3 linked regions of the Homo sapiens genome follow. The protein of the gene in region 3 interacts with the protein of the main gene of each other region in a pairwise test. Each region holds a gene or a part of one and is shown on either strand. Other genes may lie near its edges.

The links.
Region 1: the proteins of BDNF (region 3) and TLE6 interact in binary tests that used the Homo sapiens proteins (3 or more experiments, as listed by UniProt).
Region 2: the proteins of BDNF (region 3) and SLC41A3 interact in binary tests that used the Homo sapiens proteins (3 or more experiments, as listed by UniProt).

The regions. Positions count from the first base shown.
Region 1 is NC_000019.10:2,983,940-2,987,590, reverse strand, and holds part of TLE6 (transducin-like enhancer protein 6), read right to left. Parts: exon of another isoform or gene 3,372-3,651; intron 763-3,371; coding exon 700-762; intron 609-699; coding exon 353-608; intron 236-352; coding exon 219-235; intron 1-218. UniProt on the Homo sapiens protein: Component of the subcortical maternal complex (SCMC), a multiprotein complex that plays a key role in early embryonic development.
Region 2 is NC_000003.12:126,077,597-126,081,247, forward strand, and holds part of SLC41A3 (solute carrier family 41 member 3), read right to left. Parts: intron 1-3,651. UniProt on the Homo sapiens protein: Na(+)/Mg(2+) ion exchanger that acts as a predominant Mg(2+) efflux system at the mitochondrial inner membrane.
Region 3 is NC_000011.10:27,693,805-27,697,455, forward strand, and holds part of BDNF (neurotrophic factor BDNF precursor form isoform a preproprotein), read right to left. Parts: intron 1-3,651. UniProt on the Homo sapiens protein: Important signaling molecule that activates signaling cascades downstream of NTRK2. During development, promotes the survival and differentiation of selected neuronal populations of the peripheral and central nervous systems.

The sequences.
Region 1 (3,651 bases), on a different chromosome or scaffold from region 3:
AGAGAGAGTCAGGGTATAGGGTCCTGGAAGCCCTGGGCTGTGGGTCCTGGGCTACTCCAGTATAGCCTCCTGGATCACCCAAGTCCCCCCCGGGGGACCCGAGGGGCAGGATGGAAGGAAGACAAATCCCACAGGAACCCCAGTGCCCTGACCTGGGGGAGCCCAACCGCCTGCCCGGAAGCCCACCCCTCTGGATAGAGCTGAGGTTGTTTACTCACCAGGCCTGGTGCCTGCTCTGTCACCATGACAACGGAGAGGAGGAGGGGGACAGAGAGAACAGCAGGGTTCACTGCACAGCCCCTGAGACGCAGCCTGTGGCTGCCCCTTCCCCCTCACCCTCAGGGACACTCACGTCTGTCTCTGGGCTTTGCCTTCTCATCGTGGACGCCGGCAAAAATCCGCCAGAGTTGCTCGGTCAGAGTGTCGTGCCAAAACCAAGGCTCCTTGTCCCAGAACAGCTGGGTCTCCGGCTGATTGTCCTCCCCCAAAGGCCGCCGGAGCCAGTCGGAGGACCTGGTGGCCATGATGTCCTCAAAGCTCGACTCCTGCAGGGTCTTGTCCTTCACCTGCTGGGGCGTCCCAGGGCTGGCTGGTTCAGCAGGTGAGACCTGGCCCGGCAGGAACAAGGCAGTGAGAGCTTTGAGGATGAGCCTTCACCCAAGCCTGTCCCCTCCCCTCCTTGAAGACCCAGAAACTCACCTCCTCAGACTGGAAACCCTGGAGTTGGCTGCAGCTCTCCACAATCTGTAAGACGTTTCCTATCTAGAAGGAGGTTGGCAGCAAAACAGTTAAATGTTGTTGCAGTTAAGGGTTTGCAATCCTACAGCATGATTATCCCCACCTGTAGAAGAAGGTATATCAATCTACTTGTTTTTTTGAGACAGAGTCTCACTCTGTCACCCAAGCTGGAGTGCAGTGGTGCAATCTCGGCTCACTGCAACCTCCGCCTCCCAGGTTCAAGTGGTTCTCCTGCCTCAGCCTCCTGAGTAGCTGGGATTACAGGTGCACACCACCACACCCAGCTAATTTTTGTATTTTTAGTAAAGATGGGGTTTCACCATGTTGGCCAGGCTGGTCTCCAACTCCTGACCTCAGGTGATCTGCCCACCTCAGCCTCCCAAAGTGCTGGGATTATAGGCATAAGCCACCACCCCCAGCCTTCATCTACTTTTTTGCAGATAAGATCTCACTCTGACACCCAGGCTGGAGTGCAGTGGTGCGATTACAGCTCACTGCACCCTCAACCTCCCAGGCTCAAGTGATCCTCCCATCTCAGCCTCCTGAGTAGCTGGGGTTACAGGTATGCACCACCACGCTCAGCTAATTTAAATACACTTTTTGTAGAAATGGGAGTCTCATTATGTTGGCCAGGCTGGTCTTGAATTCCTGGCCTCAAACTATCCTCCCACGTGTGCCTCCCAAAGTGCTGGGATAACAGGTTTAAGCCACCGCATCCGGCCTATCGCACCTGGCATATATCTTTTTTTTTTTTTTTTTTTTTTTTTTTTTTTTTTTTTTTGAGACAGTCTCACGCTGTGGCCCAGGCAGGAGTGCAGTGATGTGATCTCGGCTCACTGCAACCTCCGCCTCCTGGGTTCAAGCAATTCTCCTGCCTCAGCCTCCCAAGTAGCTGGATTACAGGCGTGTGCCACTACACAGACTGATTTTTGTATTTTTGGTGGAGACAGGGTTTCACCATGTTGGCCGGGCTGGTCTTGAACTCTTGACCTAAGATGATTCTCCTGCCTTGGCCTCCCAAAGTGCTGGGATTACAGGTGTGAGCCACCACACCTGGCCCCAGCTACTCTTTTTGGGATGTTTTAAAAAGAAAACCTGACCACCACCACACTTTGCTTCAAATGACTTCAAGCAGGCCGGGTGCGGTGGCTCACGCCTGTAATCCCAGCACTCTGGGAGGCCGAGGCGGGCGGATCATGAGGTCAGGAGATTGAGACCATCCTGGCTAACATGGTGAAACTCCATCTCTACTAAAAATACAAAAAAAAAAAAAAAAATTAGCCAGGCATGGTGGCAGGTGCCTGTAGTCCCAGCTACTCGGGAGGCTGAGGCAGGAGAATGGCTTGAACCCAGGAGGCGGAGCTTGCAGTGAGCCCAGATGCGAGATGATGCCACCGCACTCCAGCCTGGGTGACAGAGCGAGACTTGTCTCAAAAAAAAAAAAAAAAAAAAAGGCTTCAAGCAGCAAAACAGCATACCTAGGTCTCCCTAGGTGAGGAAGACGTTTTAATTTGCTTAAACTTTGGAAAGATACTAAGAAACTGAGGGTTACCTGCTGGGGAGAATTGATAGAAACAAGTCAGTGGTAATTTTTTTTTCTCTTTTGAGACAGTCTTGCTCTGTCGCCCAGGCTGGAGTGCAATGGCACCACCTCTGCTCACTGTAACCTCTGCCTCCTGGGTTAAAGCAATTCTCCTGCCTCAGGCTCCCAAGTAGCTGGGATTACAGGCACCCGCCACCATGCCCAGCTAATTTTGTATTTTTAGTAGAAATGGGGTTTCTCCATGTTGGCCAGGCTGGTCTCGAACTCCTGACGTCAGGTGATCTGCCCACCTCAGCCTCCCAAAGTGCTGGGATTACAGGCGTGAGCCACCTCACCCAGTCTGGTGTTTTATTTAAAACGAACAAACAACAACAAAAATCAAGCCATCTGACCACTGTCAATCCCGAAGTTAAATGTAGTTTCTCAGTAAACAGAATAAAATCGAGATCAATACCATCCAGTACAAGTAGAATTGGAATAATACATAAATATAGTCATGCATATGGAATGTCTAGTAGCCATGTTCAAAGTATAAAGAAATTGGCCAGGTGCGATGGCTCACACCGGTAATCCCAGCACTTTGAGAGGCTGAGGCGGGCGGATCACCTGAGGTCAGAAGTTCGAGACCAGCCTGGCCAACATGGCAAAACCCTGTCTCTACTAAAAACATAAAAGTTAGCCAGGCATGGTGACACACACCTGTAATCCCAGCTACTTGGGAGGCTGAGGCAGGAGAATCACTTGAACCCAGGAGGTGGAGGTTGCAGTGAGCTGAGATCCTCCCACTGCACTCCAGCCTGGGAGACGGAGCATGATCCGTCAAAACAACAAAAAAAGAAAGCAAGGCGAGTGATCCTATCTCTTAAGTTTTTTTCTACAAAAAGGCTACCTGTCTGTTTCCTTAGCAGGACGGCGGAGGGAGGGGCCGGGAGGGGAGACCCTCCATCGGAGCCCCGCGGGGGGGGGGGGACTCCAGGCTGATGCCTCCTGGGGCAGCCAGTGATGGATTTCCCAGCTGAGCCCGCCCAGCAGCAGCAAATCCCAGGGGAGCCCTCTCCAATTCACCCCGCCTCGTTAATGCGCAATTTACCGGCACTTTAATGCGCTCAGCATGAAAAGTGTGGCTCCCTTGTGCCTGCTAGCAGCCCTCCCGGGGGAGAGTGGCAGGCGGGCTGTCGGAGGAGGGGGCTGTGCTGATGGCGATTTTGAAAGCACAGCGAGGCGGCTGGGAAAGCCCGGAACTGGAAGCAGCGGGTGGGGGAAGCGGACTGCCCAGGACCACAGGCCAGGCTGGGCTGCCAGGGATCCTGGGGCCCCCTGCAGTGGGGGCTGGGCAGGGACCCTCCTGGGTCTGGCTGCAACCGAAGTGG
Region 2 (3,651 bases), on a different chromosome or scaffold from region 3:
ACATGCCTGCTTGTCATCCTTGCTTGTCAATCACAGTTTCAGGTAAGGAATGAGGTGGTAGGCTTATGCCTCCCAACTGCTGGTAAAACATTTTCCCAAGGAATTTATGGATTCAGGAGGAGCTGACGGAAGAACTGAACAGGGATGTGTGCCCCACACTGTGCCTTGCAGCAGGGAGAAGCTGAGAGTCATGGCGCCTCTTGCCTCCTCCGTGCTTCCTTCTCAGGGGCCTGAATGGAGCAGGTGATGAGTTAGCAAAGGAGCCGCCGGCCTGGGCGACTGTGATGTGCAGTGGGGACAGGGCACAGGGAGGCATCTCGAGTTGGCGGCACCCTCGGTGGCAGGAACGGTGCCCCTCATCCAGCCCAGAGAACCTGGGCCCAGGCGGCACCGGTGTGGCTCCAAGAGGCAATAAACAGAGATGGGAACTGCCTACTCCCACCTGCCTCCCACCTCCCTGAAGGACCTGCAGGGGCCCAATGCCAGGGGCAGAAAATGCCTCCCTCTCACCACACCAGGCCCCTCCAACTCTCCACCCCACTCCCACAGGCAGGAATGGCCACTCTCCTGGCTAGGCAAGGCCACTGCTGCATCCCTTAGGTCCTAACAGCAGAACCCATTCCACCTTCCTCATGACCTTCTCGTCCTCAACCTTCCAGCCTGACCCCTCAGGCCAGACCAGCCATTTTCTTTAAATTCCTATCACATCCTCTGTAGCAATGCTGGTAAAACTGAGCCAGGCTCACACTGGAAGCCTGGAGATCATGGAGAGACAGCTAGTGGAGAAGAAAGGAGAGGAGGAGGACTTGGACCCTGCCCACACTGGGAGGAACCCGTACCACACAGAGCTGAGCTATCGGCCGGCTCTCCAGGCCCCACTCTGCTTCTCTGGGTGGAAGCCCCAGAACCATGAGGAGGAAGGATGCTTGGCAGAACAGGGTGGGGATCATGGGGTCCCTGCAATGCCAGATCCCTAATCTTTTCAAAAAATAACAGACACAGCTACCGATGACCTATGCAGTATGCCTTTACCTCCTTTAATCCTTACGGGACTGTGGGAAGGCTAGACTATTAACGATCACTTTACGCAGAAGAGGAAACAGAGAATTAAAAGAGCACCAGAAAGGCCAGTGTCTCCCCTAGGCCTGGGACCCTACCAGGGTCCTCTCAAGGGGTCGCACCTACAAGGAACCCCTCTCTCCTGCCTCCTCAGTTTCTCCCCTCTACCTCTGTGGGATCATCTGATGAGAACAGAAACTTGCTCTAGGATCTGCCTCTATAAACCCAGCCTTGACGTCAAGCTATCTCTCACTTCATTCCCCTCCTCCTCTTCATGGCAAAACTATACAAAGAATCATGCCCACAGTGTGTTCTCACCTCCCCTCCTCTTCTCCTGATGCAAACTGTTCTTGCCAAGGCCAGTGGTCACCCGAGCAATGCTACAGGCACCCAGACGCCCAAGGCTTATGGACAGGAACAAAGAGAGGTGGTTAACTTTTCCCAGCTCCCTCTGCCAGAAAGGCAGGGCTTGGATGTCCTGAGCAACCAGGGAAGTGGACAGCCAGAAAAAAATTTGAACCTAAATCAGGGATTTAAACTCCTTAAGGTAAGGGAAACACACACACACACACACACACACACACCCACACACGATCAGGGATTTAAATTCCTTAAGGGTAAGGGACACACACACACACACACACACACACAATAGAAAGCAAAAACCAAAGGGGAAAAATGATTAATTTAGCTACATCAAAGTTTAAATATTCTGTAGGACAAAACTTCTAAATAAAATTTAAAAGCAAGCAAAAGCCTAGGAGAAAATAGTTGGACCCAATACAAGAGACAAAGGATAAGTGTGCAAAAAGAATGAAGAACTCCTACAGAGAAAACCATGGAGAAACTGACACAGGATGGGAACAAGAGCTCAGCTGGAGAAACACAAAGGCAGCCTAGACAGCCACCTGAGAAGAGGTTAGGGAAATAAAAATGAAAGCCGATGGAAAGATACATTATGTTTGAGGAATGGAAGAATTTCAATGAAAATGACAATTTTACCCAACGCAATTTACAGATTCAATGCAATCACTACCAAAATACCAATGTCATTCTTCACAGAAATAGAAAAAACAATTCTAAAATTTATATGTAACTACAATAGACCCCAAATAGCCAAAGCAATCCTGAGCAAAAAGAATAAAGCTTGAAGCATCATAGTGACTTCAAAATATACTACAAAGCTGTAGTAACCAAATCAGCATGGTACTGGCAGACACATAAGCCAATGGACAGAAGAGAGAACCTAGATATAAATCCACACACTTATAGCCAACTCATTTTTGACAAATGCACAAGGAACATACTCTGGGGAAAGGACAGTCTCCTCAATAGATGGACTGGAAAAACAGGATATCCATATACAGAAGAATGAAACTAGACCCCTATTTCTCACTATATTAAAAAATCACATCAAAACAGATTAAAGGCTTATATGATTTAAAACCATGAAACTACTAGTAGAAAATATTGGGGAAATTTTGCAGGACATTGGTCTGGGCAGACTTTTTGTGTAAGACCTCAAAAACACAGGCAACCAAAGCAAAAATAGACAAATGGGATTACATCAAGCTAAAAAGTTTCTGCACAGCAAAGGAAACAACAAAGTGAAAAAATAACCCACAGAATGGAAGAAAATATCTGAAACCACTCATCTCACAAGGGATTAATAACCAGAATATATAGTACCAGGAATTCAAACAACTCAATATAAAAAAAATCCAATTAAAATATGGCCAAAAGATCTGAATAGATATTTCTCAAAAGAAGACATAAATGGCTCACATATATGCAAAAAGTACTCAACATCACTAATCATGAGAGAAATGCAAGTCAAAGCCACAATGAGATATTATCCCACCCCATTTTAAATGGCTTTTATAAAAAAGACAGGGAATAATGGACACTGGTAAGGATGTGGAGAAAGTGTTCCTCGTACACTGTTAGTGGGAATGTAAACTAGTTCAGCCACTATGGAGAACAGTATGGAAGTTCCTTTAAAAACTAAAAGCAAGCCAGATGCAGTGGCTCAAGCCTGTAATCCCAGCACTTTGGGAGGCCAAGGTGGGAGAATAACTTGAGGCCAGGAGCTTGAGACCAGCCTGGCCAACATGCCAAAACCCCATCTCTACTAAAATACAAAAAATTAGCTGGGTGTGGTGACACACGCCTGTAGTTCCAGCTACTTGGGAGGCTGAGGCATGAGAGTCACTTGAACCCAGGAGGTGGAGGTTGTGGTGAGCTGAGATTGTGCCACTGCACTCTAGCCTGGGCAACAGAGCGAGATTCCATCTCTGAAAAAAAAAAACAAACTAAAAACAGAACTACCATATGATCCGGCAATCCCACTAATGGGTACATATCCAAAAGAAAGGAAACCAGGATATTGAAGAGATATCTGTACCCCATGTTTCTTGCAGCACTATTCACAATAGCTAAGATATGGATCAACCTAAGTTTCCATACCAGATGAAAGGATAAAGAAGATGCGGTACATATACACAATGGAGTACTATTCAGCCATAAAGAAGAATGAGATCCTGTCATCTGCAACAATATAGATGGAACTGGAGGTCATTACATTCAGTGAAA
Region 3 (3,651 bases):
AGGCAGAAAGAAAGAATCACAAAATGGAACTACTGATGATAGCAACTCCAAAACCAAGACTGATTAGACTAAATCCCATGTGGCAAAAATTTTATTTAGTAAGTTTCCTTCTCCCTCTCTCCCTTTAGATATATGTGCATACACACACACGCACCTTTATTTTAGTAATTTTTTTTTTCTGAAAAAGAAAGTTTTCTGCACCTGATTGCTTCCATGAATAACACAAAGCACAAACAATATGACTTTCTTTGGTTATCATGCAATTTTTTCTCTGCTTACCAGAAATTGGCACAAATTTAAGATATACTATATTCTACTCCCTGAAGCACAGTCGCTGGCATCTCCACTGGCATTTAAAAATTTGAAGACATTTAAAAGAAAATCCACAAGCTTATAGTTGCTGTCTAAATCAACTTTAACATTTCATATATTCACAATTTCATAAGTGAATCAAATTACACATAAGAAATTATAGAACTAAGCCAACTAAATGACTTTTATAATAGGTACTGGGGAAAAATATTATTAAACCTTTTCCTCCAATTTCTGCCTTTCTTCCAGCAAGACAAACCATTTTCATGAAGTTTCTGTCTACATCACTAGTGATAATCTGAAGCAGCCATTAATCAATCTATTAGTGCATTCAGCAACATTTATCAAAGTGCCTCCCCAGAACTGTTTTGGATGCTGTTGTGGGCGCATGCAAAAATGAACTAAATATAGATTTTTGTCATCCAAGAATTTTAAGTCAATTTGTAATTATTGGTTCCTGGTTCCATAACTTTTTTTTTTTTTTTTTTTGGTGCTGGCTCAGATGTATACCTTCATCTATTCTAAGGTTAAGGCAATCCTTATAATTTTCTTCCTTTTTCTTGTTTGTTTGTTTTTTGTGTGTGTGTTTAAAATCTTGCTTATATTTGACTTTATTTTATTCTCACATCTTCTGAGTACATTAAAGTTAAAGGTAGATCATAAATCGAAAACATTCTTAAAGGTCTCTCTACTCAAATTATTTGGTGTTATTGTATCTCAGAAAGTATAATGAATTGCCTGTAGCAAATAAATAAAATCAGAACCTTTATACTCAATGGTTCGGTTTGGTACATATCCATGAAAATAATAAATGTTAAAAAGGATGCTAGCCGTTGATTCCTGGCATGCTATTCTACATTTGGCTACATTACAACGTTAAAAGGATTTAGTGCATATATCAAATTGTGGATCTGCTTGTTTTAAAATTTCATCTGTAATTCCACATGCAACCCCCACCCCCATACACACTCACAAGATCTGAATATGGTAACAAGGAAATCCTAGTAACTGTAGCGTTGGAAAAATGGTTCATATGGAAATAAGCCATTTGGCTAGTAAAGCTGGTGATTTTGTTCTCTAGGTGGCACTATTACTTCAATTTTTGGTGAGTTGCTTAAATTACTTGGAACTGCCCGTTTATTTTCTTTGAATTCCCATTTTATAAATTTTAATTTTATACAAGCTAGTTGTAATTAAACGACAGGTTGCCTTCTAGGTTTTATTTCAGTAAGTCAATTTGAAGTTCAGTGATTTTTTATCATATAATTTTATGTTTCCTTACTATACTGTCTTAGTTTTAAGAAATCCTCCCTTGCCTGACCTCCTCTCTCCAAAAATGCAGAGGCATGTCAAAAACACAGAGGGTCGTCATAAAGTTTCCGTCAGACCAAAGGAACCAAGATGAAAGCATGTTTAAGAGCTACTAGGTTCTGGGAGATTTCAAAATCAGGACATTACTACCATGACAACCAATGAAAAGTTCTTTCAAGTGAACCTTTGGGGAAAACTATATAACGTTCCTTACTCTCTAGGCTCTCTGGAAATAAACTTTTACTTTATTATGGCTGTCACTAAAGCTTGTAAATTTACTTTGCTTCCTTCCAATCGTTCTCCTGTCCCACACTCAGCCCCCTAACTCACTTAATGCAACCCATCCTCAAACATCAATCTATAAATGAGACATCAGGGCAATGAGCCACTTCTTAGCATCTAGTATATTTGATAAGATTTGTCTCATCAAGAGGATAAGTGCCCTAGAGCTTCTACTTGAACTTAAATACTTAATTTAAATGAAAGCTTCCACACTTATCTGACCAGATACTCAAATTTTTCTACAGAAAAGAGAATACCTTCCTGTTCCACTTAAAGAACACACACATTTACCACTCCCCCTCCTCTCCCCTGCAAAAGGTTTTCAATGTCAGTACATTAGTGAGCTCCATTTTGCATCTGCCATCAATAATGATTCCATATAGTCAATAATTGGGTTCATGACCTTTCTAAATCTTTACAGTGTAAATATTCTGGAAATCCAGTGAGGCACTTAAGTATAAAATTATTTAGGATTAAATAATTCTATGCCTTAAGTAGAAGTTTAAGAGGACGTTTAGGACACACATGACTAAGCCTACAAATACCAAAGCCACTCTATGTTTCCTAGGTTTAAATACCACATGCAAATAACATACGGATTTCATTTGCCAGCATCATTTATTGCCTAACATTACTCCATACTAAACAGAGTAAATGGATGCAGAGTGTAACCAGTAAGTTTGCTCATTCACTTTTGAAGCTCATCTGTGCATGTTATTCATCCTAATAAAGAAAATTTATCACAACACAACTTGATGCGATTCTTGTTCAAATGATTTCCTCTTCCATTGAACAACAGCCAGCACTTAAAACCTAGAATTCCACAGAATTCTCTCCTCGATTCCTCTTTAAAATGCAATTCACAGTTTGAGATCACAGAGCCTGCCAGTGGCTGAATGGCTGCACTAGATGGCTGAGAGTCCTTCAATTAAGCAACAATTTTGCAATTAGTGGAAACTGAGTGCTCTATAACAATTGTTTGAAAACAAGTTGAGACAAGTTAGCAATTACCCTATAAAAGGGACATATTCACTTTTGTTGGATAGGCGAGACCCCTCACACAAATTGAACTCTTCCACACAGGGAGATGCAAGTTGAAAATTAATGTTTTAATCACTAAAATCAAATCCATATTATGGGCACCTGAAATGGGAGTGCCTTTCTTCTCAAAAGATATTCAGAGTTTAGCTATCATCCACTCTCTATGCTGTCTGTTTTTATTCAGGAAGTCTGAAATTGTTCTTCTGTACTCCGGGATTAATTTCCTACATCTCAAAATGTTAATAAACTACTTGAACATGACCTTTCCATTCTGTAAATTTCCTTAAGAGTAAGTCTACGATTGAGACCCAAAGCTGCTGGCTGTGTTATATTTCACAGTTCACAGTTCTCTCTCTCTCTCTCTCCCCCTCTACACACACGCGCACGTGCACGCACACACACACACACACACACAGAGAGAGAGAGAGAGAGAGAGAGAGAGAGAGCACCCCAGGTTTTAGAAGATGAATGTAAAAAGAATGTAAACAAGTTCTCTGCTATACTATCAGGTGGGCGTGCCCAGCTCACTGTGCGTGCTGAACTACAAACCAGTGCTATTCATATAAGAAATGATATCAATCATCTACATTTTGACTATTGAAAAGCTGGGACTCTTAAAGATTCCAGGAAAAAGGGAATAGCTTACATTTTCATGGCGCCCCTTTTAAACAGGAAACCCACGGACTTTGAGCCAGGATTTTAGAA